Regions from separate parts of the Homo sapiens genome. Here regions 2, 3, 4, 5, 6 and 7 are each reported to be linked to region 1. The links are microRNA targets in miRTarBase. Many come from high-throughput screens and were not tested one by one. Region 1 holds a microRNA gene; each other region holds the end of a gene's coding sequence. Distances are from middle to middle.

Region 1 (4,068 bases):
TAAAGGTTTTCAGCTTTATCTGCAATTTCTAAATACTAAAAATATTCCTAATTATTAAAACTACTGTTGATGATGGGGGCACACGTCAATTTCCCCACCAAAACTGAACTCCTGAAGGCCAGAGAACTTTGCTAATTATTCTCTTTTATTTTCAGTTCCCAGAACAGTGCACCAGGTTCATGGAGAGCTCAATGAATGTCTGCTGCATGAATGACTCTTCCCGGGAGTATTGGCTTTAAATAAAATCTATGAGACAACCTGCTAACCAAGCACAAGGATAGCCTCCTGAGACAACAAGGCAGGTACTTTCTGAACCAAGTAACTACTACTTCCAGTTGAGGCTCTTAAGCTTTGAGAAAGCCCCATACTAAAATGGCATTTCTTGCTATGCTATGCCATTTTTCATTCATTCAAAGACACTTATTGTCTATCAAGTGCCAGGCCCTGTGATCATAAAAGACTACAAGAGTCTTTACCCTTAAGAAGCTCATTTAATTTAGTTGCAAAGACAAGAATGCACGTGATTGCAAAACTCTGGGAAGAGCATTATGATACAAGTATGCATAGGGTACCACAGGGCATATAAAGAGAAGACACTTAACCCAGAGTCTAAAAGCTTCCCAGAAGAGCTGACTCCTGAGGTGAATCTTAAAATATCCCCTTCCTATACACTAGTGCTCTGCTGGCCAATACAGTGGCCATTGTGTGTAATGATGTAAATATAAATTAATTAAAATGAAATTAAGTCAGTTCCTCAGTCACACTAGCCACATTTCCAGCACTCAACAGCTACATGTAGCTAGTGCCCTTGGACAATACAGATACGGCACATTTCCATTTGTGCAGAAAGTTCTAATGGACAATGCTGTTCTGGTGACTTCATTCAAACAAAGTATAAGTTCCCTTCTCAAAGATCCCATACAAAAAGAAGACGTAGGATAGACATTTATACTACAGAATTGCATTCAATGTCTCCAATAAGCTATTTCAGGACTCAGATCACCCTACAATATTTTAAATAAGGATGCAACTCAAACAAGGCGAAGAGGGAATTTCAATTTCTGATTCTACCTTCAGGGAAGATAAAAACATCTTATGTGAAGTGATTTATGAGTCAATGTGAAATAGGTAAAGAAAATCTCAAGAGAAAGAAATACAGAGGGTTAAATATTGACTTTTACAGACAGAATTCTTTACACCACTTTCCTCACTGTAATGTTACTCTTTTTCCCCTTGTACAATACTTAATACCTATTTTAGTAGATAGGTACTTTGAAACTATGTAAATATCTCATTCCTCATCATATATACAGATATACATTCATTCACCAAAAAGTATTGTTTCTCTGAAAAGACTTGGCTTCTATTATACTTAATATAGTTCCTGATTTTATAAATCACTGTGTATGTGACCATTCTCCCATCTCTGCCACCACCCCTTCCCCATGTGGATGCCCTTCTCTCCCTACTCCACGTGGGGCTAACCCCCCAAGAGGACAGCCCCTTTAGAGGAAATTTATAGACTAGAGGATTCTGAGATCTTCAGATCTTTCAAGGTGGAATGCTGCTTTGAAGATAGGATCTTTTTACTTAAAAATGTATTTAAGAAAAATATCATTAACCAAAAGCATCACAACCAAATAAACTATATTTACCTCTAAAAACTAGACTTATTCTGAAACTACAGAACAGTACAAGAAATTATATATAATCACTACATTGCAACACTTTTCAAACATTCTTATAGCAACATTTATGACGTAACAACATACCAGTTCAGATTTGAAGTAGCCTATTGTGTTTTCATCCAATTGAAAATATCTTCTCTTCCAGTTTTTCATCTACCAGAGATGAACACAGACATAAGACTTGTGTTTCTAAGAATGTCAAATGTTAGTCACCACTTAATTACCCTGATATGAACCCACAATCAGACATGCCAAGCAGTGAAAAATCTCATTACTTCCCTTAGAGATGCGATAAATTAAACCTCATCCCTCTCTAGCTACCCAGGCTTTGAATTCCTAATTCAATTTCTGGTGCCTGGCTTTCATCTTTTATTGTATGATTTTATGTGTTTTTTTTTTTTTTTTTTGAGACAGAGTCTTGCTCTGTCACCCAGGCTGGAGTGCAATGGCGCGATCTCGGCTCACTGCCTCTGCCTTCTGGGTTCAAGCAATTCTCCTGCATCAGCCTCTCGAGTAGCTGGGATTACAGGCTCCCATCACTATGCCCAGCTAATTTTTGTATTTTTAGTAGAGACAGGGTTTCACCATGTTAGTCAGGCTGGTCTCAAACTCCTGACCTCAGGTGATCCGCCCACCTTGGCCTCCCAAAATGCTGGGATTACAGGCGTGAGCCACCATGCCTGGCCTATTTCATATTTTTAATGTTGAAACTTTTTTTTTTTTTAAAAGCACTTCCCCTTCCTCCTACTCCTCGCCCCCGCCAACCCCATGTAAAGAGCAAACACAGGAAATGTTATTAAACCACATCAAGTTTCTCCATCTGTAAAAACATATGAATTCTTCCACAAGTACTTTATACATAGTAGTAAAGCACTAAATATTTAATAAAGTAAACCTATTTTGTACAAATATTTTTTGTCAATAAAATAACAGTTTTTGCAGAAGCACTTAAATATCTCTGACTGGTATTTTGGACTTAAGAGTAAAACAAAAAGGAACCATCAGGCTATGATCCTCAGTTGTGTGTAAAATTAGGGCTTTCAATCTACACACAACTGAGCATCACAGCCTGATGAGAATTCTGACTCTACCTGCAGACATTGTACAGTAAGAAACCCCTGCCCTCACCATCATTTTCCTCAGCCTAAAGCAGGTCAAACAGGTGAAAGGACATTCCCCTGGCTGCCCTAAAAAAATTAAGAGTTGCCAAAAAGTGATGAGAAGTCAAACAGAACCACCAAAATAATTTTAAGTATTTCTTTACTCACAGACTTAAAAAACATTTTCAAACTTTAAAGTTAATTTTCTCATGAAATTCTAAAGATTTAGTTCACATAGAAAGAATGGCTTAGATACTAAGGTATGTTGCAACCTTAGAAATATTGGTAAATTTACTTGCTCTTGCAAAAAATTCATCATGGAACTGATTATATGGGAATACCTGGGCTAACCCATAACAGCTTTTACTAAGTACCAGGTGCTGTGCAAAGGGAAACACACCTTTCTTATTTACATCTCTTAAAAAACAAAAACAAAACAAAACAAAACCCTAGATGGTAGGTTTTATATGATATTCCTTAAGACAGAAACTGAGGGCCTGAGAGGTTAAGTAAGTAGCCCAAGGTCAGAGAGCTTACCACGGAGGTCAGGCCAATGCCTAAACAAGGAAGAGACCTCCTAGGCACCACTCCTTCTCCTGCCGCTGGCCTGCCATCTCCCCACAACAGCTCTCTTTCCCTGACCCACTCCTGAGTATGAGTAAAGATGAATAGAAACACTTTCTAAAACATTAAACTGTTAGGAAAGCTCATTTAAACTGAAAGTCAGTGGTAATGGGCATTAACTTTCCTGGCCCCCTGCAAACCAAGCAAATAACAGCATTGAATTATAAACAGAGAATATCCCCTATTTTATCTCCTGACTCTCCTCAGCATGCCGGTCTCTCACTTTGGGTCTTTCATAAAATAAAGCAAACAATTTCCATGTTAATTTGAGTTTGCTAGAACGTAATCCTTTTTCATTATTTCATGTATTTTGTTAAGCTACTCACCACTGCTCCTTGTTTTACACAATATCCAGCTTTGATAACCGCACTATCTTGAGGTGGTTTAGGAGTAAAGTAAGGAAGATGGCTTTGTGACCGTTTCAGATTATTTCTGTCAATACTTTCACCACATTCATTTACTTCTTCTTTCTAAAATGAAGCAAAATAAATAAATTATTTTCTTGCTTGTTTAGCATACTTTTATTTCATATTATCCCAGTAGAAAATCTTAAAATCCACCTTAGATTAGTCAGAAACAGATTTTTGAAGAGTTTTCTAATTAATCTGAGATACTTACTCTTAATTTTCCTGTCACTGATTAAAGCACAAATTTCC
Region 2 (4,068 bases), not on the chromosome of region 1:
TGTGTTTTCTAGTTTCAAGGCTTATATGAAACTTTTCAGGCACTTTTCAGAGTTTATACTGAATATAGGGTGTTATATATGTATATATATATATACTGAGTAGATAGCCAAATCTGAACATGCTGCTCTTTCCCGGGTGCCTCTCCTTTGCCAGTTTTTTGGACACTGAAAAAACAGGGAGCTTGACATAAATTTTGAAAGTTCAGGCTGGGCGTGGTGGCTCACACCTGTAATCCCAGCACTTTGGGAGGCCGAGGCGGGTGGATCACCTAAGGTTGGGAGTTCCAGAGCAGCCTGGCCATTATGGTGAAACCCCGTCTCTACTAAAAATACAAAAATTAGCTGGGTGTGGTGGCACGTTCCTGTAATCCCAGCTACTCGGGAGGCTGAGGTAGTCGAATCGCTTGAACCTGGGAGGTGGAGGTTGCAGTGAGCCGAGATCATGCCACTGCACTCCAGCCTAGGTGACAGAGCAAGACTCTGTCTCAAAAAAAAAAAAGAAAGTTCACTAATCTTTGGAGTAAACAAAGCAAATGTAAGACTTCTGAACGATTGTGTGATCTTCAAATGTTCATCAGCTAGAAAAGGTCTGTTTATTGTTTAAGAGTTACTCATTTGCCAGACATTTTTTATTTTGTAATTTCTGTTTTTTTTTTTTTTCTACCAGAGCCTACATTCATCAGTACACAAAATTTGGAATCGAAGAAGAGGACTTTTTAGACAGTTTCACGTCATTAGAGCAGGTTGTTGCCAGTTACTGTAATCTCTGATCTTGAACAATGGGAAAAGTATACCTTAAGGCATTTCTGGACTAAAATATTTTCAATACTATTTTCTCTGTAAAGTTTTCAAAGTTCTCCATCCTGGCTAACACGGTGAAACACCGTCTCTACCAGAAAATACAAAAAATTAGCCAGGCGCGGTGGCGGGTGCCTGTAGTCCCAGCTACTCGGGAGGCTGAGGCAGGAGAATGACGTGAACCCAGGAGGCGGAGCTTGCAGTGAGCCGAGATCGCGCCACTGCACTCCAGCCTGGGCGACAGAGCGAGACTCCGTCTCAAAAAAAAAAAAAAAAAAAAATGTTTTCAAAGTTCCATTCTGTTAAAGTAACCACGTAGAATGCTGAGTCTATTCTGCATACTATGCCCACAGAAAAGGAAGAAAACTTTTTAAAATGGAGAATCGCATGTTTTCAATGAAAACATTCACTTGGTATTTCATTTGTAAGAAAAAAAAATGGTGCTTTTATAAAGAACTTTGGGGAAACACTTTGCTGAAATGTTGGGACTCTGGAACTAGCCAAGAAAAGAGAATATTCTCTTTGTCTACATGTTCCTAAATCTTTACTCCAAAACAACTCCAAAAACAACTCACAAAGCATGAACCAAACTTTCACAGCATAATTTCAAGCTAAGGAATTGTAATTCTGTACTTAATATATTCATGTTTGAAATGAATGCTTTGAACCACAGGAGGGAGATGTTGTCAAATGCTACAGTGTGAACATGTATTTTGAATATTCTGTAACAGGGCAAGTTTCCACTCTAAGCAGCTATTTAAAAATAAATATGAGGATTTTGGTAATAAATGCTTATGCTTAAGTACAAAAGTAAATAGGTAAATGTGTACTTAGTGTGCTTTTCTTAAACTTTTTGGGCATGAGAAAATTGGCTCAAATTTTGTTTTGGATCTTGGAATGCCAGAGCAGATATTGATTTTATTCAATTATTGCTTTAAAATTACTTATAATGGGCTGGGCATGGTGGCTCACACCTGTAATCCCAACACTTTGGGAGGGCAAAGTGGGAGGATCACTTGAGGCCAGGAGTTTGAGACCAGCCTGAGAAATACAGTAAGACCCCCATCTCTCCAAAAAAAAAAAAAAATTTTAATTAGCTGGGTGTGGTGGCATACACTTGTGGTCTGAGCTACTTTGGAGGTTTGGGTGGGAGGATCACTTGAGCCTGGGAGGTCGAGGCTGCAGTGAACTGGTATCGTGCCTCTGCATTCCAGCCCGGGTGACAGAGTAAGACTGTCTCCAAAAAAAAAAAAAAAGAATGAAATTACTTATAGGTATTCAGCTGGTACAGATGATGGTTATATGCTTTTCAGTAAAAGGGGTAAGAATTTTCACCTAAATTTTTCACTAAGTTGAGAAAATTATCACCAAGGAAATATAGTTACTTGATGAAATTGACGCACAAGATACGGGTTTCACCCAAGACAAAACGTGCTTGGAAATTGACAACTGAGTTTGAAGGGAATGTTGTATTTCCATAAAACACATCACATGCAATATATTAACAAATGTAAAATGATTAACAAATAGGAACATTTGCCCTTTCTGCCAAATCTACCAATAGTGACTTTTATATGGAAAAATGACAGTTCACAGCTTCACTGGTTCTTCTTTTTCTTTCCATATGGAAATGATTACCTTTTTGCTGTTTTTCTTATCAACTGTTGCTATGATTTAAAATACTGAACCATATCTTATTTGTAAGGAATGTAAAAAGTGGTCGGTTCTGCTGCTAAAAGGCACACCCCGCTGCTGCATTTCGTTAAGCCAAGTACACTTGAAAAATAATTAGATCATAATTTTTACCAAACAAGTTAAAGTAATTGTTTAAGCATTGAAGAGATCCACAGACTGAAACAATTTCCCAGACTAAACCAGCATTCATGAAGATCTGTAACTGAGTATCTCACCAGGGGTTAATCTGATTCTGAGGAACCTTACTAGAAGTTAACTTGAAAGAAAGTCGTAAGTTGAAATCATTTGATATTTGAGAAAATTCATGAGGTACCAATAGGGGCAAGTATATTTCTAATTTGGCAACTCGTGGAATCATTAGCAGGTGAACATTAGAAGCAAATCCCAACTAGACAGAGCTCTGGGTCCATTTACTTATGCTATTTGACCCTTTTTTATGATCCACAACTGCATTATTTGATATGTATGGTTACCTATTACATATATATGTGTGTGTGTGTGTGTGTATGTATTTTTTTTTTTTTTGAGACAGCGTCTCGCTCTGTCACCCAGGCTAGAGTGCAGTAGCATGATCTCAGCTCACTGCAGCCTCAACCTCCCAGGCTCAAGCAATCCTCCCACCTTAGACTCACTAATAACTGGGACTATAGGTGTGCACCACCATGCCCAGCTAATTTTTGTATTTTTGGTAGAGACGAAGTTTCCTCATGTTGCCTGGGCTGGTTTCAAACTCCTGGGCTCAGGCTATCTACCTGCCTCGGCCTCCCAAAGTGCTGAGATTACAGGCGTGAGCCACCATACCTGGCCAATGCCTAAATATTTTAAAGCTTGGGTTAAAACATTCACATGGAAAATAATTTTTTCTTGTCTACTTGGAATAACAAAATTTTTGCTCTTAAAGTTGTGATTTTAAGTTAAAAATTAACACCAAGATGCTGATGTCAAAACTTCAGATGGAGTGGCATTGGAAATGTGCTTTGATTTGTGTGGAGATAATGGCCAGTCAGCCAGGAGGACAACATTGGCTCCCTTAGCTCCTGGGCATACAGATCCAGAAAACTTTGAAAGTGTAATTTCTTAGATTATGGGATAACTGGCACATTACGTTGTCAAACATTATCCTGCAGAGCCAGAATGCACCCCTGTGGACAATGAGCACAGTGTGAATGCATACTGTTTCTTATTGTCAAGCTCTTTCTCTCTTACCTCCCCAATCTTTCCTCAAGAGCTTAAGCTGTAGAACCTGTTTTTTCCCATGCATTCGCCACTTCCAGCCCTGGGATCTCCCCGAAAACTCCCCTCCCCTATCCACCCTTACTATTCAATCTACAACATCTTTCAACATCTTTCTCCTATATTTTACCCATCACTTAGAACTCACTAAGTATGCCAACAATTCACTATTATCAGCCAATTCATCCATTCAACCAGTATCATCTATTCAGTGCCAGGCACTGAGGAAGATGTTAAGGATACAGGGATCAATGCTACCTTGTCTGAAGAAGCTTTTTGGGATGTTTAGTGCTACAATTCTAGCTTCCTAATTATTGCTTGTTATCTTGCCTGTGTGCATAT
Region 3 (4,068 bases), not on the chromosome of region 1:
CTCTTCCGACATGTGGACGCTCTTTGAAACATGTGACGTCCACATTCGCAAGCAGCAGATGGTGTCTGTGGAAGAGACCATCTACATCGTGGGGGGGTGTCTCCACGAGCTGGGGCCCAACCGCAGGAGCAGCCAGAGCGAGGACATGCTCACCGTGCAGTCCTACAACACCGTCACCCGCCAGTGGCTCTACCTCAAGGAGAACACGTCCAAATCGGGTCTTAACTTGACTTGTGCGCTCCATAACGACGGCATCTACATCATGAGCAGAGACGTCACCCTGTCGACCAGCTTGGAACACCGAGTGTTCCTCAAGTACAACATCTTTTCAGATAGTTGGGAAGCATTTCGGCGTTTTCCAGCTTTTGGACATAACTTGCTGGTTTCTTCTCTTTATCTGCCCAATAAAGCAGAAACATGACTGAATTGAATTGGTAGATGAAAAAAACCTGGTTCAAGTTTTTTTTAAAATGTGGTGTCCCATTCCAAGGGAGACCAATTCCTAAAGGGTAAAGAAGGGTTAAAGTAGGTCACATATATACAGTAGCAGCTGTAAATAAGCTTACTTGAACTAATTACTTGAAAACTGGTGGAAAAAAGAGACCAACTTTGTTATTTTTTAAATTATTGATTTTTAAATTATGGGAGCAAATCCATCTCCAAACATGATACTCTTGGGCCAATGACGGATCATCAAAATGTAGATTCATTGTGTCTGTGTGGTAAAGGGCCAAAGTCAATAATTGGGACAAATGGTAAAGATGATTTTAAAATCTGTTGTATTTAGGTCCCTTGACATATCATTAGCACCTTAAGTGAGAGGTTTTCTTTTTCTTATCAGTGTCCTTGACAAGCATTCATATTAACATATTCATTCTCTCTTCTCCATCACCCATACCCACACATACATCTAGTATGTTTAGGGTTCTGTGTTCAGATATTTTGTTTGCACACTACTTTTTAGGAAACTTATAATGATGGAGCCCTACAGTGAATCCTTACCAGTGTTCAGTCCTCCCCAAAACTTGCATAAAAATATTCTTAGCTATTTTTCCAGCCTTTTTTGCAGTTACAAATGCTGGATAAATAGACTGATAAAACCTCTTATTTTATTTATGTGGCAGGTTGCATATTTATGTGGACACATAGGTTGCACTGCTAGGCATTCTGTATTGTTTTAAAGAGGATATATTATTTAGAAAAATGGACATATGAATATTATTAAAAATTGAGTCTTAAATTTAAATGGGAAGGGAAGAAAACACCAAATAAGAAAAAAATTTGCCTTTAAGAGTTACTTTTGTTGAATGTATTTGACTTAGTTCTTATTTTAAGGCTAAAAAAACTTTGTCATATTTAAGTCGGCAGCTTTCTAATTTAATCTTAGCTTTGTAATTCATGTTTTGCTTTTGTGGACTAAGGTAAGGACAGCATTTAAATATTTGTGCTGGAGTGAGGGGAAGAAGCTGTTACAGAAGTGGAATGGTTTCTGGTGGTATTTCTGAAGTTAGGTAAAGTGCTTTACTTGCCTTGGTTGTTAATTGAAATAGAATTCAGCTCAAGCAGTTGTTTTCAGTGAGTGAGTTAACAATAAAAGCTTCTGCCAATCATAGATCAACATTCCTCAAAAATACATACACTCATACTTATGGAAATTTTATTTTGATTGAAAACACTCTGAAATTATCTGATATTTTGTAATGGCATCAGTTAAACTGTGAGCTGGATTCCATCTTTCTGCAGTAACAGCGGGCAGAACCATTTCAGTTAGCATGTGCCTCACTTTAAGAAAGTCCTGTAGGGGAAAAAAAAAACTGTCAGAGCGAATTCATGCATTCAACAAACACTTATGAGTGCCTGGAGTATGCCGTCCACTGTGCAGATGTAGGACAGGGGCTAATCACTTAGAGTTCTTCAGTTTATTAGAGGAGTGACTACAGGTTTTCTTTACAACCATGGCCTCTAGTATACTTAAAATAAGCGTCCAGTTATAAAAAGCCTATTTGCACAACTTTTTGGGAATACTTCTATTAACTAAAATGAGGTAAGCCATTATTTTGGACATAGAAACAGATCTTTGTATCTTGTCACCAAATAATCTTACCTCTAGTCTACTTACAACTTTGTAAGGGTTTCTAAGCTATGCCCATTTATTCCCAAATATTAAGCCCTTAAAAAAATAAAACCTCTGAACCAAAATCTTCCCAGGAATAGTACTTAATAGATTTTAATGTTAATTTATATTCATTGTAGAATTGAATTTCCAGTGACCTGTAATTTCATTACATATATTTTAAAATCTATTTATTTTAGATGGTGTTAACTTTTCGTTGCTGAAGAGCTTAACTTTTTAAAGGCTTTGTCCTATACATTTAGAAGATGAGTCAGTTGAATTAGTACTGGACAAACAGTTGGAGATTAGTTTGCAAATAAGCATATCATATCAAATACAATATTCCAGCCAACCAGTTAATTCTCTTCCTGGTTACATTCATTGGGTCTATTTGCCTAATGTTGACAATTAGATTCTTGGACCAAGTGAGGGTGTACTCTGATCCACAAAGCTCTTTTATAAACCAGGTTTGAGGTTGTGTGTGTGTGTGGGGGTGTGTGTGTGTGTGTGTGTGTATGTTTGCATATTATAGCTCTCTTTAAGACAGACATCTAAAAAGATTTTGGTTATTCTGGGCTGCCAGCAGTACGTGGGAAAGGTGGAATGTGCAATAGGAACAGATCTGTGCATTTTGTGACATCGTCCTTCCTGCTGTGCACATCAGCTGTGATGACATTTTGAGGGTAGTTTTAATTTAGCTCGGTTCTCTTGTTGGTGCCAGTATTACATTGAAGACTACCTATGATAGAGGCAATGTTGCTTTGAAAATCTCCCTTCAGGCGGAGGTTGCAGTGAGCCGAGATTGTGCCATTGCACTCCAGCCTGGGCGACAGTGCAAGACTCTGTCTCCAAAAAAAAAAAAAGAAAAAAGAAAATCCCCCTTCATCCCCCAGGACTGTCCTTTACTCTTTGATAGTATCCCTCTATTTTCTTCCCAATTCTCTAAATGCTTTATCATTTTTTCCTGAGATGCTTCTGAGGGATGCTGACCTCCCACTATGGGGAAAAGGGTTGCTTGGAGGACCTGGGGTGGCAGCCCCCCGACCAGAAGCACCCTATTTTATAGATAGCAGTCTGAATGGTAGAGAGTCCTGTGTGTGGGTTGTTAGAAGGTTGGTTCTTCCTGTTATTCTCTCTGGCTTTCCTTTCAACCCACTTATTTTCAGAGGCCTCTCCCCTTAGCATCCTTTAAAAGGTTTTCTGATGAATGTGTGAAAGAGTTGATTATTTCAACAGTATTGGTTAAGTCACAACGACGAAGTGCTGAGAAGGTTATGGGTACCAGGAAGAAACAAACAGAAGTCTTAAGATTAGAATGAGAACCAAAGAGAATTTAACCCTGCCATTTTTTTTTTTTTAACACCAAGATCCTAAGTAATTCCAAATGCCTTAGATATCAATGAAAGCTACACACCATTGAGATGGGCAAAATTCTTTCTCTACAAAGGGAGTAATCAAGTAAATACCTGTTCTCTTTCAATGGACTGTTGCCTATTGAGCATTGTGGATGATGTGTTTTCAGATTTCCAGGTGAAGTTCTGACCCTACCTGTTTGGCCAAAGACGTAAATTGAGAGGAAAGGCCTTGGTCTTCCTGATCAACCAGCATTTAACGAACAGTGGCTTAATGCAGATCACTCAAGAGGCAGCATAGCAATGTAAAAGGAATATAAGTAGGTGTTGGATGCCTTTTTCCTAGACCAGGAATGGGGAATATATAACACCTGTGCCACCGCTCTTTTAAGGAGGCATTATGAATGAGTGCAGCATTCCTGTCCTCTGTGCCAGGATTTGGTCTTAGAATCCATGTCAGATTGGTGCTTCCAGACATCTATTCCCAGTCCATCAGAGTGAAATGAAGGCTATTTGCCATCCCTGCCTTAGACAGAGGAGTGAAAGAATTAAGTGGGTAGACACCAACCAAAATGACTTTGAAAGCAGTGAGCTGATTGAGCT
Region 4 (4,068 bases), not on the chromosome of region 1:
GTCCAGCCAGGCGGCAGCATGTTTTAGAGATGGGGCTGGTGCTTGCCCAAGGTGACCAGGCGAACAAAGACGCCAAGCTGTGGCCTGAGGAGGGGTGCTTGCTGCTCTCACCGTGAGGTTGTGCCTCCCTGGAATGCAGAGGCTGGTGAGTTCATGCTTCTCATCCCCACCTCCCCACCCCACCCACAGCACCTACTCTCAGCCCAGTCCACACCCATCACAAGAAAGGGGCTCTTCCTGAAGGGACCCACAGGATTGGTTTTATTATGGAATCCAGTGCTGGAATCCACATTGTAAAAGCCCTGAGGTGATGTTTCAAGGAAAAGTAATGACAGCAACAACCAAAGTAAAAATTAAGGAAAAAAAGTGACTTCTGGATGTGCAGTCTAAGTCATTTCAGGGGTTTGAACAAAGTCAAACTTATGGTTCTCAGAAAAAATTTTAAACTGTCAAAACAACTTATTAAAACCAATGTAGCAGATACATTAAATAAAAAAACATTTAAATTTTTGTAGAGACAGAGTCTCGTTATGTTGCCCACGATGGTGTCAAACTCCTGGGTTCATGCGATCTTCCTGCTCTGGTCTCCCCAAAGTGCTAGGACTACGGGCGTGAGCCACTATGCCTGGCCGCCAAAATTTTTTTTTTTTGAGACAAGAGTTTAGCTCCTGTTGCCCAGGCTGGAATGCAATGGCACAATCTCAGCTCACTGCAACTTTCACCTCCCGGGTTCCAGCGATTCTCCTGCCTCAGCCTCCCGAGTAGCTGGGATTATAGTCATGTGCCACCACTGCCGGCTAATTTTGTGTTTTCAGTAGAGACAGGGTTTCTCCATGTTGGTCAGGCTGGTCTCAAACTTGTGACCTCAGGTGATCCGCCCGCCTCAGCCTCCCAAAGTGTTGGGATTACAGGTGTGAGCCACTGCGCTCCGCTAAAAACTCTTTAAAGGAGAAAAATCTCCATAATCCCATCATCTTGATATAACATGTTTGTAAATTTCACTTTAAACCATGATCTTTGGGAGGAACGTACTATTCTGGAAACTTTCCAATCCTTACCTTTTCCTGTTGGGTTCTAAATAATCTAGGCAATGAAAAAAGAAGGGGGTTGTTGCTCCTCTTCCCTCTTCTATGGGCAGTGCTTCCCACAGTATGGCCCTCAGATAACCTGTCTCCTATTACTCTATGGGGATGCGAGGGGATGGGGAGGAAGGAAGGGTTTGTGAATACCTTATTTCCCCTGCTGCACACTGTATAAAGCAAAATCTTAGGGCTGGATGGCAGTGACTCCTGGGAATTTGAATTTTTTAAAAATTTTAATTTTTAAAATTATTTAAACAGAGATAGGATCTTGCTCTGTTGTCCAGACTGGTCTTGAGCTCTTGGGCTCAAGTGATCTTCCCGCCTCAGCCTCCAGAATAGCTGGAACTACAGGTGCAAGCCACTAAGCCCAGGTGAATTTGAATTTTTTTTTTTTTTTTTGAGACGGAGTCTTGCTCTGTTGCCCAGGCTGGAGTGCAGTGGTGCGATCTTGGCTCACTGCAACCTCCGCCTCCTGGGTTCAGGTGATTCTCCTGCCTCAGCCTCCCGAGTAGCTGGGACTACAAGCATGTGCCACCATATCCGGCTAATTTTTGTATTTTTAGTAGAGATGGGGTTTCACCATTTAGCCAGGCTGGTCTCGAACTCCTGACATCTGGCAATCCACCTGCCTCGGCCTTCCAAAATGCTGGGATTACAGGCATGAGCCACCATACTCGGCCATGAATATGAATTTTTAAGAGGCCTGCCACACCCTCCTTGCCCCTAGAGTTTGTAGCACCTTTAGGTTTGAGAAGCAAACCTAATCTTACAGTAAAGAATTAAAGAGTCTTTGACACTGGCCTTCTTGACGAACAAGGGTTGAAAAGCTGATGTATACCAGCTGTGTAGCTTCTGCTTTAATCCAGGTAAAGAAAGTTGAAGACCTAAACAAATGCATGTATTGCTTGCAAGAATGGTGGTGAGTGACTCTATCATTATTCTTATGTCGGGGAAGGAAGTCTTTTTCTTGTCAGAGATGACTGTTTAGGTTTTGGCAGTTCAGTAATGAGTATGCTGTATAAATGACCATACATTGAAATTTTAAGGGCTGTTATGAAAAGCAGGGGCAAAAGCCACATCAATGGAGTAACTTGCTCGCAAAACAAAGGGATAGAGTAGCAGCATGATTATTTTACTTTTACCAAGCCTCTTTCTAGCTCTGTCAGTTCTTTATTTTGCTAAGCCATGACTCTCCCATGCCTTTTACAGCAAGTTGGGGGACCAAACAAATGAATGTGAATGGGAATAAATGGTGGTACTTCAGAGCAGAATGCTCAGAAGCAGAACATCTCTTATTTATGTAATTTGTGATTTTCCTTAGTAATAGTGGCAAAAACTCATTTTGTTCCCGTATGAAAATTAACCAATATTAGTCAGGCACAGTGGCTCATGCCTATAATCCCAACACTTTGGGAGGCCAAGGGGGATGGATCACCTGAGGTCAGAAGTTTGAGACCAGCCTGGCCAACATGGTGAAAATATAAAAAAATTAGCCAGATGTGCTGGCACGTGCCTGTAGTCCCAGCTACACGGGAGGCTGAGGCAGGAGGATCACGTGAGCCAGGGAGGTGGAGGCTGCAATGAGCCAAGATCGTGTCACTGCACTGCAGCCTGGGTGACAGAGTGAGAGCCACACTCCATCTCAAAAAAAAAAAAAAAAAAAAGAAAAAAGAAAATTAACCAGTATTATAAACTGAGTTACTTCCAAAGTCCAAACTTCAACTGCTGCTGGAATTTGCCTATACCGCCCCAAAGCACTTTTTCACCTACGGGCACCAAACGACTGTCTATTTCCAATTCTATGATATATATGTTTTTCTCTCCACACTTTACCATCTCTGAAATTGGGGTGTCTTACAACTGTTGATATGACAGAGTTTAATTGGCAGTATTTTTTCTTAATGATACATAAAATAATGGTTCATATAATAATCAAAGGAATCACAGATTTGATGAAATATGGTAGATGCTACCAGAACACTTTGGGAAAACTGGTAACTAAACATCCCAGGGAATGAATATGAGATTGATCCTTATCCATCTGAACACTTCATTCAACACCAACCCATGTGCCAGGTAAAAAAATCCACTGGTCTTATAATTTCACAATTGCGTTCTAGTTCCCAAAACAGACTTGCTCTCCGACAGAGACAGCTGTGCAGGAAGTGAGCCTGCTTCTCTGTGGGCTCATCTTTGCTGTCACAAACAACTGGATGAATCTTTCCTACCAAGTTGTTGCGGTGAAGGGCCTCTGGGGTTGACATACAGTTAGACATACTCATTGACAGCACAGAACCCAAAAGGCTGCCTCTGGAATTATTACCTGGTCATTCTCTAACTTGGAATGCAGCTGGCTGGGGTGGTGGAGCCCATCGGAGACAGTCTTGCCGCCTGTTTTATTTGGTAGACTCCTCCTACTGGAAAGCTCTCCAGCAGAAGAATCTGTCAAACCATCAAAATCTTTTCCCTCTGACACTCCCATAAATTCTGTGAAAGAATGGTCTTCAAGGATGTTGGTGGTGTGTTCTACCGTCACCTCCCTGGGGCAGAATCCCCTGGCTGGCTGGCTAATTTTGCTGGGGCAGGCATCTAGTTCTGAACATGAGCCAGTCCTGCACAGTGATTTGGAGTTTTTCTCAGGGATGCTCTGGGATGATGGGCTCCCTTTGGCTAAGGCACTGTTTTCCTTGAGTGGCACCACAATTATCTTGTCCTTTACCAAGCCTTTTTCGACTTCTGTCAACTCTTTGTTTGAGGACGGCCTGAAATCATGCACAAGCGATGGTGTGGAGTGCTCGGTGGAGTCTGCATCCTTCGTCTGAATGGCCAGCTGGTCTGAGCTGTCACTAGAAGGGACCACCATGTCAGACAGGGTGGCATTGGAGGCACTGTGGGAAAAGTAGCCACTGGTAATACTGCTGGTGGTAGGGCTACGGGACACTTCTTTCTCCAAGACCCGTGAGTTTGACAGATCTACTTTAGAGGA
Region 5 (4,068 bases), 31 Mb from region 1:
CGCCGTCGCTGCTGCTGCTGCTGAGTGGTTGCCTCCTCGCGGCTGCTCGGAGGGAGAAAGGGGCGGCTAGCAACGTGGCGGAGCCGGTCCCCGGGCCCACTGGCGGCTCCTCGGGTCGCTTCCTCAGCCCCGAGCAGCACGCGTGCAGCTGGCAGCTCCTGCTGCCCGCCCCGGAGGCCGCAGCGGGCAGCGAGCTGGCGCTGCGCTGCCAGAGCCCGGACGGGGCGCGCCACCAGTGCGCCTACCGCGGGCATCCGGAGCGCTGCGCAGCCTACGCCGCTCGCCGCGCGCACTTCTGGAAGCAGGTGCTGGGAGGGCTGCGCAAGAAGCGGAGGCCCTGTCACGACCCCGCGCCGCTCCAGGCCCGCTTGTGCGCGGGCAAGAAGGGCCACGGCGCCGAGCTGCGGCTAGTGCCCCGCGCGTCCCCGCCCGCACGCCCCACCGTCGCGGGATTCGCGGGGGAGTCCAAGCCCCGGGCCCGGAACCGGGGGCGGACCCGGGAGCGTGCGTCCGGCCCAGCCGCTGGGACCCCGCCTCCCCAAAGCGCACCGCCCAAAGAAAACCCCTCAGAGAGGAAGACCAACGAGGGCAAGAGGAAGGCGGCCTTGGTCCCCAACGAGGAGCGACCCATGGGGACCGGGCCCGACCCCGACGGGCTGGACGGGAACGCGGAGCTCACGGAGACCTACTGCGCTGAGAAGTGGCACTCCCTCTGCAACTTCTTTGTCAATTTCTGGAACGGCTGAGACTGCCTGCCGGCTTAGGGAGGGTTGATGGGGGAGGCGTGGGGAAGGGAAAGCTAAGGGCGTCTTAGACCGGGGGGTACTGTGATAGAGATTGGGGAGAAGTCCAGGTTCTCGAATGGGGGTGGGGGCAAGGGTAAGGGTGAGATGCTTGGGATGAGAGTGTAAGGGGTATGGAGAATCTCTGGGATAGCAGAGAAGTTAAAAATTTTGAAAAGTCTCAGTCCTGATTAAGAGCAGGAAAAATAATGGAAACAGAAATAGGCGTACTTTAAATGTGCAAAAACTGGAGACTGGGGAGAGAAATCGATGCAGAGGGAGGCTGAGAATAAGGGGGAGATAGAGTGACTAAAGTGATGTGAGTCCCATGTGGGGAGGGGGATGCAATGTTTATTGTTTAACATTTCTATTAAATGCAGCCATGAGCAATTGCCAACCTGAGCCAGGTTGAATCAATGTCTTCTCACTTAATCAGCTAACAAGACTGCAGACTTTTTTTCCGTTTCTGAATTGGTATAAACTTGGATGCGGCGTGGTGGGTGTCATAGATAACCTCTATAGGGACAGAAGCCTCACAGGTCAAAACTGGCTCCAAGGAAAGTTTTGCAGAATGATTTCCTTTCCATTCTTTTAGAAGAGCTACCTTTTTTTTTTTTTTTCCCTGACAGGGTCTGGCTTGCCCAGGCTGGAGTGCGGTGGCTAGTCACAGGTGTAATAATAGGCACTGCAGTCTCCAACTCCTGGCCTCAAGGGATCCTCACATCTTAGCCTCCAGAATAGCTAGGAGTAGGAGTAGCTGGGACTACAAGCATGCACAGCTGCACTTGGCTTAGAAGTGCTACTTTATTTTTATTTTTGAGACAGGGTCTTGTGTCATCCAGACTGGAGCAGTGGTGCAATTATGGCTCACTGCGGCCTCGACATTCCAGTCTCAAGTGATCCTCTGCCTCAGCCTCCGGAGTAGCCAGGACTACAGGGGTGTGCCACTAGAAGTGCTACTTTTTAACGAAATGGTGACTAATGTTCTGGAACTTTCCCATTAACCTTCTGCATTTAGAAGGAATTATAGATGTTGAGTGCTCCAGTAAACAGTGATTCTCTTTATATCTGATTTTTTTTTTTAAACAGCTAAAATGTAAGTATGTATCTCAGAGTCATTTTGACCATTATGGAAGTTGTATCTCTCTGTTTCATGTAACTAATTATTAATATATTTCATTTTTAGTGTGATGTAATGAGAGACTGTGTGTGTATGTTAGGTGCTCAATAAAAACTGTATGGTTAGATTTAAAGAAGTGGCAAGGCAATGGAAATTCTACCTGCATTTGATCTACTTCCAAGTACACCTTGAATTAAGTTCTTAAACACATCTTGAATTGCTGGGAAAAGACAGAAACTAAGAAGTTGACATAAAGCAAGAGTCACAAACTGGCAGCCACCTGGCCTTATCATTGTTCTATTTGATTTGCACCCTGGTTCTCTTTCTTTTTCCCTTCCTCCCCACCTTCCTCCCATCCATTGTTGAATCTGTGGATGCAGAGCCCACGGATGTGGAGGGGCAACTATATATATGTTTTTCCATTATATATATAAATGTGTGTGTGTGTATATATGTGTGTGTGTGTTGCAACCACTTATTTGGGAACTTGAAGTTAAATCCTCATGGTCATTCCCTTAACAAGGTGAGATCGCTTTATTCTGAATATTTTGGTCCTCCATTTGAAGCATACCATTGCATACTATATTAAAACAACAACTTCATAGTCCTTGCACCCTAAACACCTATGATCTCAACACAAAATTTGTTCATAATCAGTTAAATTCTAATTCTTCAAATAAGAGTAAATCATTACTTTATTATTCTCAACTCTACAAGTTACATATGGTGGCAGACTATAAGTATATAATATAGTTACTTACATGATCCCTACCTCCTGGTATTCTCACCTCTGTGTATTCCCCTTTCTTTGATTATGCGCAGGGCCTGTGAATTGCTTGTAAGCATGGTGGGTACACTATCATCTGAAAGATGTATCTTAGTTTTCCACATTCTGCTGATTGAAAGAAAACCCTGGGTAAGTTCCAATCTTGCTATTCAACAGGACAAGGTTCAAGGCCAAAACAAGAGTCCCAGAAAAGGTCAAGCTAGAAGCAGCAGGGAGTCAGGCCAACCTGAGTAGAAATGAACAATGGAGGCTCTAGGGAAGAATCAATTTCCTTGCCCTTTCCAGCTTCTAGAGCTGTCCACATTCCTTGGCCCTTGGTTTTCTTCCATCTTCGAAGCCAACTATCATCTCATTCCAACCTCTGTTTTTTTTTTTTTTTTTTTGAGACGGAGTTTTGCTCAGTCGCCCAGGCTGGAGTACAGTGGCGCGATCTCGGCTCACTGCAAGCTCCACCTCCCGGGTTCATGCCATTCTCCTGTTTCAGCCTCCCGAGTAGCTGGGACTACAGGCACCCGCCACCACGCCCGGCTAATTTTTTGTATTTTTTTTTTTTTTAGTAGAGACAAGGTTTCACCATGTTAGCCAGGATGGTCTCGATCTCCTGACCTCGTGATCCGCCCGCCTTGGCCTCCCAAAGTGCTGGGATTACAGGCGTCAGCCACCGCGCCCGGCTCCAACCTCTGCTTTTATCATCACATCTCCTTCTCTGACTCCCTCTTTCTTGCCTCGCTCTTTTTTTTACTTAAAAAGACGCTTACAAATACACGGGGCCCATTCAAATAATCCAGGATAATTTTTCAATCTCAAGATCAGTTGGTTAGCCGACTTAATTCTATCTGTAACCTTAATTTCCCATTGAAATCTAATGCAATTTATCCCAATATATTCACAGGTTCTGGGGATTAAGATGTCAACACGGGGCAGGGGTGGGAGAAGTGGGGGCGGCGGGGGGGAAGTGGGAGCATTATTCTGCTTACCACAAGTGGCTACATCCAACAACGTAAACTCCAAAACAAAGGAAAAGGATAAAGAGGGACATTATATAACGAGAGAAGGATCAACTCACAAAAAAGACAACAATCCTAAATGTGAGTGTACCTAACAGTGCAACAAAATACATGAAGCAAAAACCAATAGAATCGAAAGGAGGAATAGATAAATTCGCTATTTTATGTGGAGACTTCAACGTTTCTCTTTCAGTAATAAATAGAAAAAGAAGATAGAAAATCGGTAAGAATATAAAAGACCTGAACAATACTATCAACAAACTTGACCTAATTGACCTTTCTGGAATACTGTATCCTATAACAGCAGAACAGCAGACTACACATTTTCAAATATGCACGGGACATTCACCAATATAGGCCATATTCTGGACC
Region 6 (4,068 bases), not on the chromosome of region 1:
GCCTGGCCAGATTTTTCTTTATGGTGATAAATTCCTGGAAATCTTGGTAAACCCCAGCTTTATTTTTCTGTAACAGAATGCACATAAAATAGGTAAAGCACATACAGGAGGTAAAGTTACGCTCATTTTGAAAGCAAAGGAATGTCAAGGGTCTTAATGGCTGAGATTAAGATTTTGAATATGTGGAAATAATAATAGATTGAAAATGCAGTTGACCACCAGTTTATGGAAAGGAAAATACATATTTTGGTGGTTCTGTTTAGGGTTAGAGTCTGGGAAGATAAATATATACTCAAAACTAATTGTTTTGTAACAAAAGGCAAAGGGCAGTATTTGATTTCTTACTAAGGTTACTGAGCTTATTTATTTTGTTTTTTCTTTAAACAGATGCTGTATATGACTTGCCTAGCTCCAGTGAAGACCAGTTGCTAGAACATGCTGAGGGACAGCCCGTGGCATGTAATGGACATTGCAAGTTCCCCTTTTCATCCAGAGCCTTTTTGAGTTTCAAGTTTGACCATAATGCTATAATGAAAATCTTGGACCTTTGATAGCAGCACATGTATTGTAAATGTCCCAGGATCAGAGACCTGTTGAATTTGAGTGGGTGTCTCCTCAAGCCTTACCTTTCTCAGGTGTTTTAAAGAAATGCAGGGAGGCAATGTTTCTGAAGACATTTTCTGTTTATAAGAGAGTAGAAAGAAACACGAGTTTGCACTGTAAATGCAGTTATAACCTTTTATACAGATTTACCTTTTCAGTGTTCAGTACAAGTTTAAGTTGCTTTCTTTGAGGGCATTTATTCTGTGTGACTGTGGGTTTTATTTTGTATTCTGGTTAAGAAAATAATGTATTGAGTTACTGTCAAGTAGCCAAGTTAATGGGAATGCTCCATCTACCTGTTACAGTGATTGCAATAATAGTATATTGGAGTTTTTCAAAGAAACTTAAAGTAATGCCCAATTATTAAATGAACACAAGAGCTGAGATGTCACATTCGTCAGCATTACAGGTGATCTATTTTGGTGGCATTTTGTACTTCTCTCTGCTTCTAACCACTGAGGCTCTCTAATCTTCCTCTGGAGTTTTAGTGAAAGGATTTATTGAGCAGCTTCTGGAATATAATGTGCATGTCCAAAATGAACTCAGCGCTTCAAAAGGACAAAGTCTGTAGCCTGGAGGGGCTTGAGTGGATGGGAGCTGATGCTGTGATTTTGAGCTGTGGTTACATGCAGTCAGTAAACCTGTGAGACTGCTGGAGGAAATGTAGCAGACAGCATGGAGGCTGGGACCCAGCAGCTACTTTGGGTCATGTCTTTACTGTCCTGCCTCCAACCCTTTAGTCTCGTAGACTTTTGTTCTTGTGGAAATTTCTTCTGTATTCCAGTTGTGTAAATATGTATGGAAAACTGATATTACTAGGTTTTACGTTGCATCTCCAGTATTGATCTTTGGAAACTGATGTTACATTAGGTTCCAATTCGCAATAGTAGCAGAGACTGACATGCTTTTATTGACCTGCTAAGCCCCTGGATGATGGAGCGAGAAGGGAAGGGGTATGCAGTTTACCCAAGTCCAAATAAAGCATTTCACTAGGTTACACGTTATGTATATGTGTTACATAACAGTAACATACATAACTCACTCCTAGGAATGTATTTTGCTTCAGGATTTTTAAATTCAAATAAGGATGGCAGTGCCCATTTTAAGGAGGATTTCAGCTATAACTGAGGACAATCACCAGGGCGTTAAGGGGGCTTTAGTGTTTTGGCTGCATCTGACCTCATTGAAGGAATTTCTTGGGAGTCGGGGGTGTTTGAGTATATGTGTGTGTGTGTAACTATCATGTGGGTTTTAAAAATCCTTTTTTACAGTGGTATCCACAAAATACTTCTCTGCTTATAAATGTTATTGTAGAAATCTTTATTCTGTGTAGGTAGCCTATTTAATTGGGTTCCACTGAACCTCATGGGACTTTTAAAAGAAGGGCTATTTAAGGAATTCACTTGGTAGTACTTTGCTTTAGCTTTTAAATGGCTTGATTTTAAAGGAGAAATTCTATTTATTAATGAAAGTGTCACCCTTTTGGTGCTAAGCAGGAGAATTCACAATTAAAGCAGTGTGTATAGAATTATGATATTCAGAATCCTGCATCTTTTAATGTGACAAATTTTTGAATCCTGTGACTTTTGCTTTTTAATGCATTATATGATTGTGTTTGGAAGCTTTTACTGTTCTTTTCAGAAATACGGCTGCTTTGCTTGGGTCTCTTCGAGCCATATTTATAGTTGGTCCCAGCATTCCAGACTTCTGGTAAATTGTTAAAGGAGTGAAAATGTAGTTTGCCTGGCAGATGAATAATTTTCACTCATTTATTGTCTTCTGGAAACCATTTAACTTTTACTGTTTTTTATTTTTTTGGTATGTGTTTTTTTTTTTCTTTTTAAGTGCATACTTTGGCCAGTCTTCCTGGTGCCTGTAGAGTTGGATTTTTCAGCTCTCAATACTGAAGCAAAAGAGATTATAGTTACCAGAAGTATGGCCTCTAATGGTGTTGAGCCTTTTCAAGAACCAACAAATTATCTTTGTGATTACAGTAGTTTAACTATGGTTAAATGTTACTGCTGTTGCGCTGCTTTATTTAATGCACTGTGGAACAAAATATAAGGGTACTGTTGGGGTGTGATTATGATAACTTCAGGCTTTTAGCTCTCCTCAAAGTTTGAGGTTAAAAAAATGTTAAAAGATGTGAGTTAAAGTTTATGTGTGTGATGTGACTTAACTATGCAGAAAATATTTAAGTTGGATGTACTTGTTTTAGGTACATCTACTATACTTATTCTCTCAAACCTGGGTAATAGTTTCTCAGTGTTCAGGTTACCTTGAGAAAGGCCATGCTTAGCGAACTGGATTTCTCCTTTGAGAAATTTTAGTATGGTTTGAGGAAATCAAGTGATAAAGGAGTATGCTGAATATGCAATCATTTACTTCTACTGAGTGCTGCATTTTAAGATGCTAGATGAGAAGAGTAGTTGGTTTTGCTTCATTATGTTTTATGTCTTTGAGAGAGATACAGGTCTTGGAATTCACTTTTTAAATGTTACGTTCCAACCTTATATGTTCCAAGGTGCAGTGCACTGTGAATCTTTTATTTTTAAAAAAATTTGTAGGTGCTTTTATGTATAACTTTAATGATTTATAAGATGCTAAATGAATTGTTTTTGTACCTAACCATTGTAATCCAAAAGATAAGGGTGTGGTTTACATGCTTTTCAAAAATTTTTGTTAAGAAGTAGCAAATGAATGGTTTAGGATTTCAAATAGTGATACCCTCCTGAGACATGAGCATTTGGAGAGGCCTGAGAACCTAATAGAACTCATATAGTGTGAGTGAAATTTGATTAAAGATGTTGGAAAATGAAGTTGGATTTTTGTATTCATGTATAAAGGAAAGTCTCCCAGTGCTGTCAAAGGAATTGTGGTTACTACTTGCTGTTCTGAGCTTTGAATATCGTTATTTTTCTATTAAATATCAATTAGTAAGTATAGCTAATGAAGACATATAATGAAAGTAATTTTATGCTGTAAGATTGAATTGGTACTTTTCCTTATTAAGGCTTTAGTAATTTGTATGTAATGTCAAATAAAAGGAATTCAAATCTGAGTAAATAACAGCCTCCTACTATAGGAATTAGATTCTTCTATAAAAGTCACCATATTGTATCCTATAGAAAAGTTAAGGTCTGAGTGCATGTGTGCATTAAAAACATTTCACTACCTATTCTCTCATGGACTTCTCATCCTTTCTTTTTTCATCTCCAACAGTTAAATGGTAAGGAGAGCAAAGTTAATTATAAAAATTAGACATTTTGCCAAGTTAGTTTTCTTACCACAATACCCTCTTGGCTTTTTTTTTTTTTTTTTTGAGATGGAGTTTCACTCCTGTTGCCCAGGCTGGAGTGCAATGGTGCAATTTCGGCTCACCGCAACCTACGCCTCCCGGGTTCAAGTGATTCTCCTGCCTCAGCCTCCCAAGTAGCTGGGATTACAGGCATGCGCCACCACGCC
Region 7 (4,068 bases), not on the chromosome of region 1:
GCCAGTACCTTACCTCATTCTTCAACTACCCTAATGAGGGATCCTTACAGGCTCTCTGGACCTTAAATTCTTGTCAAGCAATGGGGCTGGCATTCAGAAATGCTGAGATTCCAGGTGGTAGGTACAAATCTTTGAAGAAAGCCTCACTTTTGTTATTGTTGGTGACCAACTGATGTTCTACCATTCATCCAAAAACTACAATGGAAACGTTAGCATGGCCTGTATTTCACTTGTTTCCTAGGAATGTCAACTATATCACATCATGGCTGAGCATTGTAGGGCCAGTTGTTGGGCTGAATCTACCTCTGAGTTATGCCAAAGCAACGTCTCAGGATGAACGAAATGTCCCTTAACAAGGTAAAAGAAAAGCCTGGATTTAATGTTTTGCCGTTACAAAGATCAATGTCTCCATTGCATTTAGACTCATCCCACCAAATGCAAAATTTGCTTTCATCTTTAGTGGGCAAACCCTGACTTAATTTTTAGTTTTCCAATCAGTCCCCTACCAAGTTATTTAGGACAGGGATCCCCAAATCCCAGGCCATGGACCGGAACCAGGCCTCACAGCAGGAGGTGAGCGGCAGCTGGGTGGGCAAGCAAGCGAGCATTACCACCTGAGCTCTTCCTCCTATCAGATCAGCTGCAGCATTGGATCTGCATAGGAATGTGAACCCTATTGTGAACTGCGCATCTGAGGGACCTAGGTTGCGCGCTCCTTATGAGATTCTAACCAATGCCTGATGATCTGAGGTGGAACAGTTTCATCCTGAAACCATCTCCCATTCGGTCTGTGAAAATGGTTTTCCCTGAAACTGGTGCCTGGTGCCAAAAAGGTTGGGGGCCACCAATTCAGGAAATATTTTACTTTGCTGTAAGTAGCATGCACTCAGTGACAGGAATGGATAGTTTTATTTTAGTACTGATATTCTTAAATAAGTCTTTACTGCTCAGTTATTTTTCTTTTATTCTCTTGGCTTTTGTTTTATGTTCTTCAGATTCTTCTATTGAGTTTAGGAATTGCGGCACGAAGAATGCCAAGAGTTTACCTGGCCAGCCCTGGCTTTAATAGGACTGATACCATGGAATATTTCATCTCACCAAGATGTGACATGGATTATTTTTCCCTTGGACACAAATGTCTACAGCAACTGGTGTTTGATAGGCTGAATGTTTAGAAGAAACACTTCAAAGGGATACATCATGGCCAGGCATGGTGGCTCACACCTGTAATCCAAGCACTTTGGGAGGCCAAGGTGGGAGCATCACTTGATCCTGGGAGTTCGAGACCAGCCTGGGCAACATGGTGAAACCCTGTCGGTACAAAAAAATACAAAAATTTGCCTGTTTATGGTGGTGTGTTCCTGTAGTCCCAGCTCCCCAGGAGGCTGAGGTGGGAGGTTGGCTTTAACCCAGGAGGCAGAGGTTGCAGTGAGCTGAGACTGTGCCACTGCAGTCCAGCCTGGGTGACAGAGCCAGACACTGTCTCGGGGAAAAAAAAAAAAAAAAAAAGACACATCACTATAAATAGCAAAAAAACAAATCTAACTTATTAATACTAGGAATACCAACATTATTAGGGCACTTGCAGGTTATTCTTTTCTAGGCCAAGTACTTCACTTCCATTTGTCTGACATGGAGATTGAGGGAGAAATGTATTTGTGTGTTCATTTTAATGTAAGATATATAAAAATTAAATTACTGGATTTACCTGTCCCTGAAACTGGTGTTATAAACATGACCTATCTTAAGTGATTTTCCCACAATCAAACTCAGGAACAATAGATTATTTCTGTTTTACTCCAAAAGAGAGAGAGAGAGTGAGTGTGAGTGTGTGTGTGTGTGTGTGTGTATGTGTGGGTGTTTGTGTAGATAGTTGTAAAACAAAGAAAAAACACAATATTTTACTGTGAGATAATATGTTTTACCAGCAAAGTGTGGCATAGTAATTAGAAGTTTTCTAAAAAGCTATAGGAGATATTTAAACATTAAAATTTCTTTTTGACCTATAGTAATAAAACAATGGTCATTTTACCCCTCTGCTTCTCAACCCCACAGCTGCTCTGCTGTACTCTTTGAGGGCTCTTGAGCGAGTCTTCATGTCCCTGAGACTTATTTTCCTCATCTTTAATTTGAAACTAACAAGCTACCTCATAGGGTTGCTGTGAGAACCACATGAGATCATTAATGCATGATAAGATATTGTAAAGTATTATACGAATATTCATTAAATGCTCACCTTTCTTGTATATAATTGGTATTCACTAAGGCTGTAAATAAGTTTCATAGCCAGTTAAGTATTAAGATAAACCTAACCTGGAACAATTTTTTTTTTGGTTGCTTGTTTTGTTTTTTGCTTTCATTTGCTAGGAGCTGAAACGAAGATTAAAATGTCATTGGCTTTTTAGAGAGTCTAGATTAGTGTGTCTTTGAATGAGGGATATACTTAAAATCACCTGAGGATCGTTTACAGCTACAGATGCTGGGGCCACCTGACACAGTCTCTCTGGGGGTGATTCTGCTCTGGAGAACCTCTGGTCTGGATATACCTTTATTGTGACATTGATTTGTATTGTTTTGCTCTACTGACAGGCCTTTTCCAATCCATACAAGCTGAACTTGCTTCCTAATGTTTGTCTAGGCCTTACATGGATAGTAAGGAAGCTTAGGAGACATGTACACAAGGCAGCCCACTTGTAGGAAACTGCTTCAGGTGAGGACATCATTCACCAGTGGATCACCGAGCACCGTGACAGCACCCTCAGTCCACGTCTGCAGATTAAGAGCTGAACTCTCACAGAGAAAGTGGAAGTAGAGAAAGGGTTAATTCAAACTGCTAGAAAAGCTAAAAGTAAATTTTAAAATGCTGAGCTGCCCATATTCATGCTAGGATGAGAGCCGGCTTAAATGCTTGCTGGGCATTTTGGTATTTACCACTTAGCATGTTTTCAACTTCTGTGAGGGATTTTCCCCCCAATCTCCCTAATGTAAACACAGATTTCTCAGCAAGTCATTTCTCAAGCCATGTCATTTCTAGTGTAAAATAAATTATAATAATGTGTCATCTGAATGGTGTTCTTGTCTGCAAACATTAGTTATCCTTTGCTAACAGATTCTGAGATGAGAGTCTATCAGTTTGGAGCCAATGTTTAGTTTTTTTTAAAAAAAGTTAAAAATACAACTTTTTCTCTGATCAACAAAGACCTAAAAATTCATCAGTGGCAGAAAAAAGTTCCAAGGAGCTCCTGTAGACTGGGGAGGCCTTTCTTCCCAGATAGATCCATCTCCTCAAGCAGCTTGATTTCTTTCTAGAATTTTTTTCACTTAAAAAACTTCTAATTTTTGGTTGATAACAATTTCCATTTTTATAAATGCAGTTATGCTAACAGAATGTTATCCTGACAGTTATTAAACATTAGAAGATATTTGGTTTTGTTGAAGTAACTGTTCTTTCTCGGCAATATGAGGATTTTTTCTCCCTGCTTCCTCAAATAATGTACAACATCTATCAGAAATAAGGCTGGGTAAAGTCGCTTCCAGCTCACCTCCTAAATTCTGCTTCTGTGTGACCTTGGAAAAATTTCTTCACCTCTGTGGTCCTCAGTTTCTTTATTTGTAAAATAGGGAAATTCAGCTATGTGTCTTTTGCGACAACCGTGAATTTTTAGGTCTGTGAAATAGAAGTCCAGAGATCTAAACTGTGAGGCTGGTTAACTGCTAGCTGTGTGACTTGGGCCAATTTTCTTATTTCCTTCTTAAACTATTTCTGAAAAATAAAGCCCACAGTATCTATGCTGCTTACCTGACAAGGGCATAGAGAAGATCAAAATGATACATAAAACTGAATGTGCTTTAACCAAGGCAGTGAGACATGGAGTGAGGGGTGACAGTGGATAATGACCTGCTCCTTCAGCGACACTAGCATCCCTACTCCTCTCCACCTCATTGTATGTCTGAGCCCTCCCCAGTGCCAAGCGCTCTCTGATCTGGGGAGTCTTTTCCTTCACACCCTTAGCTGACTGTTGCTTATGCTGGTGCCCACCTGGAAGTGCTTCCTTCCCCACAGGTCTA

Evidence for each region. The annotated mature microRNA hsa-miR-3941 reads UUACACACAACUGAGGAUCAUA and lies in region 1 at 2,696-2,717, opposite strand. An mRNA with a match to its seed (bases 2 to 7 or 8) in the 3' UTR can be bound and repressed. Matches are read on the target gene's strand: a 7mer-m8 pairs with bases 2 to 8, a 7mer-A1 pairs with bases 2 to 7 and ends in A, and an 8mer does both.
Region 2: miRTarBase lists TUBD1 as a target of hsa-miR-3941. The part of its 3' UTR that is shown has no 7-base or 8-base seed match.
Region 3: the mRNA of KLHL42 is a reported target of hsa-miR-3941. Seed matches in the 3' UTR shown: 7mer-m8 at 2,623-2,629.
Region 4: miRTarBase lists KIF13A as a target of hsa-miR-3941. The part of its 3' UTR that is shown has no 7-base or 8-base seed match.
Region 5: the mRNA of FGFBP3 is a reported target of hsa-miR-3941. Seed matches in the 3' UTR shown: 7mer-m8 at 1,990-1,996 and 7mer-m8 at 2,345-2,351.
Region 6: miRTarBase lists DCP2 as a target of hsa-miR-3941. Seed matches in the 3' UTR shown: 7mer-A1 at 1,389-1,395, 8mer at 1,833-1,840 and 7mer-m8 at 2,120-2,126.
Region 7: the mRNA of ATG10 is a reported target of hsa-miR-3941. Seed matches in the 3' UTR shown: 7mer-m8 at 1,844-1,850.

Annotation. Positions count from the first base shown.
Region 1 is chr10:122,415,673-122,419,740 of GRCh38, reverse strand. MIR3941 (microRNA 3941) reads right to left here and starts at 2,776; the gene lies at 2,674-2,776. PLEKHA1 (pleckstrin homology domain containing A1) reads right to left here. Exons shown (of 12, transcript NM_001001974.4): 7 at 3,739-3,882; 8 at 1,773-1,841.
Region 2 is chr17:59,857,024-59,861,091 of GRCh38, reverse strand. TUBD1 (tubulin delta 1) reads left to right here. Exons shown (of 9, transcript NM_016261.4): 9 at 668-1,613. The coding sequence ends at 770. Among named protein-coding and RNA genes, the nearest start is that of MIR21, 18 kb to the right of the region's middle.
Region 3 is chr12:27,797,746-27,801,813 of GRCh38, forward strand. It overlaps KLHL42 (kelch like family member 42), which reads left to right. Exons shown (of 3, transcript NM_020782.2): 3 at 1-4,068. The coding sequence ends at 421. Among named protein-coding and RNA genes, the nearest start is that of MANSC4, 20 kb to the left of the region's middle.
Region 4 is chr6:17,760,750-17,764,817 of GRCh38, forward strand. KIF13A (kinesin family member 13A) reads right to left here. Exons shown (of 39, transcript NM_022113.6): 39 at 2,944-4,068. The coding sequence ends at 3,361. Among named protein-coding and RNA genes, the nearest start is that of NUP153-AS1, 56 kb to the left of the region's middle.
Region 5 is chr10:91,904,871-91,908,938 of GRCh38, reverse strand. FGFBP3 (fibroblast growth factor binding protein 3) reads left to right here. Exons shown (of 2, transcript NM_152429.5): 2 at 1-2,355. The coding sequence ends at 746. FGFBP3-AS1 (FGFBP3 antisense RNA 1) reads right to left here and starts at 810. Exons shown (of 2, transcript NR_199602.1): 1 at 690-810; 2 at 1-42. RefSeq lists an enhancer at 1-107 and a silencer at 11-580.
Region 6 is chr5:113,012,934-113,017,001 of GRCh38, forward strand. DCP2 (decapping mRNA 2) reads left to right here. Exons shown (of 11, transcript NM_152624.6): 11 at 388-4,068. The coding sequence ends at 551. Among named protein-coding and RNA genes, the nearest start is that of DCP2, 38 kb to the left of the region's middle.
Region 7 is chr5:82,253,073-82,257,140 of GRCh38, forward strand. It overlaps ATG10 (autophagy related 10), which reads left to right. Exons shown (of 8, transcript NM_031482.5): 7 at 242-357; 8 at 996-3,061. The coding sequence ends at 353. Among named protein-coding and RNA genes, the nearest start is that of RPS23, 23 kb to the right of the region's middle.